Homo sapiens: one gene and its partner. The protein of the gene in region 2 interacts with the protein of the main gene of each other region in a pairwise test. Each region holds a gene or a part of one and is shown on either strand. Other genes may lie near its edges.

What was found. Proteins that work in one complex are often made in the same cells at the same time.
Region 1: the proteins of VMAC (region 2) and SPG21 interact in binary tests that used the Homo sapiens proteins (3 or more experiments, as listed by UniProt).

The regions. Positions count from the first base shown.
Region 1 is NC_000015.10:64,962,522-64,965,962, forward strand, and holds the end of SPG21 (maspardin), read right to left. Parts: intron 2,940-3,441; coding exon 2,799-2,939; intron 1,216-2,798; coding exon 1,099-1,215; 3' UTR 501-1,098; downstream 1-500. UniProt on the Homo sapiens protein: May play a role as a negative regulatory factor in CD4-dependent T-cell activation.
Region 2 is NC_000019.10:5,907,824-5,911,353, reverse strand, and holds the end of VMAC (vimentin-type intermediate filament-associated coiled-coil protein), read right to left. Parts: intron 2,531-3,530; coding exon 2,212-2,530; 3' UTR 501-2,211; downstream 1-500.

The DNA of each region.
Region 1 (3,441 bases), on a different chromosome or scaffold from region 2:
CTACTAAAAATACAAAATTAGCCGGGCGTGGTGGTGCATACCTGTAATCTCAGCTACTTGGGAGGCTGAGGCAGAAGAATTGCTTGAACCCGGGAGGCGGAGGTTGCGGTGAGCCGAGATCACGTCATTGCACTCCAGCCTGGGCAACAAGAGCGAAACTCTGTCTCAAAAAAAAAAAAAAGAAAAGATGAACAAGACTGTCTGAGAGTTGATAATTTTTGAAGCTGGATGATGGGAACATCATTCATTATGCCATTTTCTCTACTTCATGTGGGTTTAAGCATTTTCACTCAGGGGAAAGAAGACGAGAAAAGTACCTGGCACACAGTAGCAGATCAATAAATGATAGCTTAGGGTTATTTTATGATGTGCAAACTGTACTTCAGGGAGATTAAGTAACTTACCCAAAGTCACACAGAATTGGCAACCATGACCTACTTCTCAGAAAGTCCTAGGCCTGTGTAGCCCAGTTGGGCAGCAACAATAATCACAAAAGCGACTCAGTTAAATTGAATTTTTATTCCAAATGACTAATATCTAGAAAGGCAGTAGCTAACACTCAAAACAATTTGTTTAAGTGTAAATTAAAAGCAGTTGATTTGCAGGAGAGCAAACAGTGGGGTAGTGGCCATGGCACTCTGATCATGGTTATATCCAAGAAAGCATAAAATAACCAATGTCCTGATATGCAATCTGGATGTGCAGCATTTACAGCAAACAACATAAAAAGAAAGAAAGAAGAATGGAAAAGAAAAGAAGAAAAAAACCACCACAAAGTCCCAAACCTCAGAAATTAACATTCACTTAAGAACACAGTGGTGAAGACTTTTGGTAGCAAAATTTGCACGGTTCTTAAAATGGGAGTCTTCAAAAGTACTTCTTCAAATTCAAAAGCTAAGAAAACCAAAGAGGGAACAGTTACACAGGCTTAGTGGAGATGCCGCCTGTCATGAAGATGACCATCAGTCCTACTTCCCAGACACAGTGAGAACCGGTGAGCCTGACGAACCTGAAGGAAAAGGCTGGCTGACGGGTGCTGATGCCACTGACTATACAAGAACACACCGGGTCAACTCATCATTGACAGCGAGAGACACACTACTGCTCCTCCTGGCTGATGCCAAGGCTGCCTTTCTGCACCTCAAGCTCCTCGGCACTGACCATTGATGGGTCAATGGCCGCGTATTTGGTTCCATGGAATTGCAGCAAATGTATCTGTTGAAATGCAGAATCATTATTTTATTTATTTTTTGAGCTGGAGTGTCACTCTTGTTGCCCAGGCTGGAGTGCAGTGGCACTATCTTGGTTCACTCCAACCTCCGCCTCCCGGGTTCACCCAATTCTCCTGCCTCAGCCTCCCGAGTAGCTGGGATTACAGGTGCCCGCCACCATGCCCAGCTAATTTTTGTATTTTTAGTAGAGACAGGGTTTCACCATGTTGGCCAGGCTGGTTTTGAACTCCTGGCCTCAAGTGATCCATCTGCCTCGGCCTCCCAAAGTGCCAGATTACAGGTGTGAGCCACTGCACCCTGCCAGAATCATTGTTTTAAATGGCTGCATTACAGAGTAAAATGTATACTGCCTTCTATAAAAAGTTTGGTAGGAAAACATCACCATAGTGGACAAATGTTTTATACTTCTAAAATTTACAGACTAAGACATACTAAATAGAGAAAAGTCAAACAATTTTTTGAAACCACATTTGGGATCTTTGTTCCTCACTCCCTGAGCAGTCTCCCTGAGTCCCTGCAGAGTCTCCTGAGACATCTTAGATGGTGCATGCTCATGAGATGTTTACCCTTCCCTTCTGCTGCTGTGAGTTAGGTCCTTCCAATCTTCTGCTACTGTGACTAGTGCTGCTATGATGAATATCTCTGGGCATCAAGTATTCCTGTTTAGGATCCTGTCTTCTATAAGGGGATGACAGGATCAAGGGATATGACTGGTTTTTGGGATTACAGGTGTGAGCCACCATGCGTGGCCAGGATATAACTGGTTTTTTAAGGCTCTTGATTCATCTTGCCAAACTGCCAGGGCACTCACCCCTCACTGCTATTCTATTATCCATTTAGTTAGAGTATGAAGGGATGGTGTTTGTTAGGGCTTTCTTTTCTTTTCTTTTTTTTTGAGACGGAGTCTTGTTCTGTTGCCCAGGCTGGAGTGCAATGGCGTGACCTCGGCTCACTGCAACCTCTGCCTCCAGGATTCAAGTGATTCTTCTGCCTCAGCCTCCCGAGTAGCTGGGACTACAGGTGTGCACCACCACGTCCAGCTAATTTTTTTTGTATTTTTAGTAGAGACGGTTTCACCATATTGGCCAGGCTGGTCTTGACCTCCTGACCTTGTGATCTGCCTGCCTCAGCCTCGCAAAGTGCTGAGATTACAGGCATGAGCCACTACGCCTGGTAGGGTTTTCTTTTAATGCATTAAAATTAGATCAAGAAGTCACTTCACAGGACTCAGATTGACCCCATTTAGGTCTGGTGTCTTGCTCTGATGGAATTCACTGTGTCCAGAGGGCAAGGTCACATCATACCAATAGTAACCTCAGTGTGTGAATGCAGGCCTGCTGTCCTTAGAAAAGGGATGGTGGCCAGAGAGTCACTGGGGGATCTCTAATATACCTGTTCAAATTCTCCTACAAGTTATAAATGTAAACCACTTTTATCAAGTCAATGCCTCATTTCTACAAGGAATTCTGTAGTTCACTGATTCCCTAACTAGTCCATTAAAAGAAGTCTTTATGTTGCAAACATATGTTGGGCTCAGAGTGCTCTGGGTTTCAAGCTAGGCCTTACCTGTACATAAAGATTGACCTCTGCACTTCTGCACAGGTATGGGAAATTGCCTCCTGTTTTCAGATGAGCTCTTCGGGCATTAGGATACAGCTTGTACATTTCTTCTTTAGCTTCAGTTGAAAGCGCACTCTGATCAAACACCTTTAAAAAACACAAAGCTTCAGCACCATAGGAAAGGTAAAACACACACACACATACAGAAAGCTGTAATCAACTAGTGTTTTAATATGTTCTTTTCACATTATGGAAATGTTACCCTAAGTATTCCTTTCATATGAAGACAATCCTGAACCCCCAGCAGCCTGAACTACCTCCACTGCTGATCCCTGGTGACTTATAACTCCAACCGAAGACATTAGCTACAGATTTTGCTGCACAGCATCTCCTGCATTCTTTTGGTGGGGGGAAATTCTTTTTTTTTTTTTGAGGTAGAGTGCAGTGGTGTGATCTCGGCTCACTGCAATCTCCACCTCCTGGGCTCAAGTGATTCTCCTGCCTCAGCCTCCTAAGTACCTGGGACTACAGGCATGCGCCATCACGCCTGGCTAATTTTTGCATTTTTAGTAGAGATGGGGTTTCACCATGTTGGCCAGGCTGGTCTCAAACTCCTGACCTCAGGTGATCTGCCCACCTCGGCCTCCCA
Region 2 (3,530 bases):
ACTTGAGGCCAGGAGTTCAAGACCAGCCTGGGCAATGTAATGAGACCTTATCTCTAGAAAAAATGCAAAAACGCAGCCAGGCATGGTGGCATATGCCCATGGTCCCAGCTACTTGGCAGGCTGAGGTAGCATGATAGCTTGATCCCAGGATTTTTTTTTGAGACGGAGTCTCCCTCTGTCGCCCAAGCTGGAGTGCAGTGGTACAATCTCGGCTCACTACAGCCTCCATCTCCCGGGTTCAAGTGATTCTCCTGCCTCAACCTCCCGAGTATCTGGGATTACAGGCACGCGCCACCACACCCGGTTAATTTTTGTGTTTTTAGTAGAGACGGAGTTTCACCATGTTGGTCAGGCTGGTCTTGAACTCCTGGCCTCAGGTGATCCACCTGCCTTGGCCTCCCAAAGTGCTGAGATTATAGGTGTGAGCCACTGGCCCAGCCAAGACCAGGATTTTGAGGCTGCAGTGAGTTGTGATCACACCATTGCACTCCAGCCTGGGCAACAGTGAGACTTTGTCTCTTTAAAAAAAAAAGAAAGAAAGAAAGAAAACAGAATTTCAGCAATAACTTCCCCCAGAATTGGAAGTGGCCCTGGCCCTCCAGACCCGGAGTGTGTTCCCTTCACACCTCTGGGCCTCTGTTTGTTGTTGTTGTTGTTGTTGTTGTTGTTGTTGTTGTTTTCTTTGAGACTGAGTCTCACTCTGTCTCCCAGGCTGGAGTGCAGTGGTGCAATCTCCACTCACTGCAACCTCCGCCTCCCGGGTTCAGTAGCTGGGATTACAGGCACCCGCCACCAAGCCCGGCTAATTTTAGTATTTTTAGTAGAGACGGGGTTTCACCATGTTGGCCAGGGTGGTCTCGAACTCCTGACCTCAGGTGATCCACCCGCATCCCAAAGTGCTGGGATTACAGGCGTGAGACACCGCGCCCGGCCTGGGCCTCACTTTCCACAGCTGTAAAATGAGGACAAAGCCTGTGTCTACAGGGAAACTCGAAGATTAGATGCAATCGCTGTAGAGAGTGCTTGGCCTACACTCCCTAGATTCTACCTGGCCCAGCAGGACCCTACCAGGAGGCACAAATAACACAGAGGGCCTCCCTCTTGCCCCCAGGCCAGGAAATCATCCGGTTTATTCTTGAGCACAGACAGGCCCCAGCCTGCCTTTCCTTTGTACAAACAACCCCCCTCCTTGTTCATCCAGAGGAGAAAATGGGCCCATTGTTACTGCACTGAGGGGTCACTGTTGCCAGGCAGGCAGGCGGGCGCCATCCTGAAGGCCGTGGGTGGCCTCCGACCTTTCTGGTCTGAAACAGGCTGTGCCCCTCGCCGGTTCCTGGTGTGACAGTTCCTGAGTGAGGAGGTAGGGGAATGGCTGCCGACCAGGCCAGGGTGACAGGCTGGCCCAGAAAGGCACAGGAGTTTTCTCCTTTCCCTGGTTTGACAACAAGCAAAGCACCCTGAATGTCCTGGGCTAAGAAGGACAGCGCAGAAACAAGGAGTTCAAAAATATATTCTTTAGGGCGTATAAAAAGGAGACAGTTGCATGCTACAAAAGCTAGGCTAGGGCCGGGCGCGGTGGCTTACACCTATAACTGCAGCACTTTCGAAGGCCGAGGCGGGTGGATCACCTAAGGTCAGGAGTTTGAGACCAGCCTGGTCAACATGGTGAAACCCCCTCCCCTCCCCGGTCTCTACCAAAAATATAAAATATCCGGGTGTGGTGGTGGGCGCCTGTAATCCCAGCTACTCTGAAGGATGAGACAGGAGAATCGCTTGAACCTGGGAGGCGGAGGTTGCAGTTAGCCAAAATCGCACCACTGCACCCCAGCCAGGGCGACAGAGTGGGACTCTGTCTTAAAAAAAAAAAAACAAAAAACAGAAACTCACACCCTGGCTAAAGAGGGTGCCCTGAACTCCAGGCAAGCTTGGCCAAGTCTTGCCAGAAATCCAGATCTTTGTGTTTGCATTGCCAGGTTTTTAGCAAGGGTGACTGATTCAAAGCTTAAAAACAAACAAGAACACTTCTGTCTGGGTTAAACGTCTGCACCTGGCCTGTGGGCCTATTTGAAAACTTTTTGACTGTTCAGCCTGTTCTGATGCTTAGACAGGACTTTGGCTCTGCCGTAGGGTCCCCCTGCAGGGTGCTGGTGACTCCCAAGGACACTGACAGCAGTGGCTTTCTGTCTCCATTCTGTAATCTGCATTCCGGGCTCACACTGTGGTCCCAAACACTGCAGGCTGGAGGTGGTCCCTGTCCGCCTCTTCCCCAGTGCTGTTGTCAAGGGGTGGACCAGGCCCACCGGGGGGTGGGTGGCCGGGGTCACTGGCCGGCAGGGGCCCCAGGCGCTCAGCCTCAGCCAGGGCATCCAGCAGCCCAGCCAGGGGTGGCCGGCGGCGGCAGATGTCCTGCAGCAGCTCAGCCCGGGGCTGCAACTGCCTAATGAGCTCGTCCCTCTGGTGCACGGTGGCCTGCAGGCTGTGGACAGTGGCTTCTGAGGTCATCAGCTGCTCCTGGAGTGTGGCAATCTCACTGGCAGGAAGGCAAGAGGAGGTGATTACAGAACTGAGGACCACAGCACCTGCTCCTCCCTGCTCTGGACCCGCAAGAGGTTCCCCATCACCTTTGGGATAAAGCCCGCATTCCTCACCACTGCCTCAGGGTCCTCCCTGGTTATGAACAGAATGTTTCTTTGTTTTTATTATTATTATTATATTTTATTTTATTATTATTTTTTTTTGAGACGAAGTCTAGCTCTGTCGCCCAGGCTGGAGTGCAATGGTGCAATCTCAGCTCACTGCAACTTCCGGCTCCAGGGTTCAAGCAATTCTCCTGCCTCAGCCTCCCTAGTAGCTGGGATTACAGGTGCCCACCACTATGCCCGGCTAGTTTTTTGTATCTTCAGTAGAGATGGGGTTTCACCATGCTGGCCAGGCTGGTCTCGAACTCCTGACCACGTGATCCACCCGCCATGGCCTCTCAAAGTGCTGGGATTACAGGCGTGAGCCACCACGCCCAGCCTATTATTATAATTTCTGAGACAGTCTCGCTCTGTTGCCCAGGCTGGAGTTCAGTGCAACCTCTGCCTCCCAGGTTCAAACTGTCCTCCTCAACCTCCCGAGTAGCTGGGTTTACAGGCATGCGCCACCATGCCTGACTGATTTTTGTATTTTTAGTAGAGACAAGGTTTTGCCATGTTGGCCAGACTGGTCTTAAACTCCTGACCTCAAGTGATCCACCCGCCTTGGCCTCCCAAAGTACTGGGATTACAGGCTGAGCCACTGTACCCAGCCTGAACTGCATCTTTCTGTCTCCCCAAAATTCATATGATGAAGTCCTAACCCCAATGGGAGGTGTATTAGTCCATTCTCACGATGCTCTAAGGACATACCTGATACTGGGTGATTTATAAAGAGGTGTAATTGACTCACATTTCCACATGGCTGGGGGTGGCCTCGGGAAACTTACAATCATGATGGAAGGAACCTCTTTATAGGGCAGCAGGAGAGACAGTGAGAGACCAGCAAAGGGG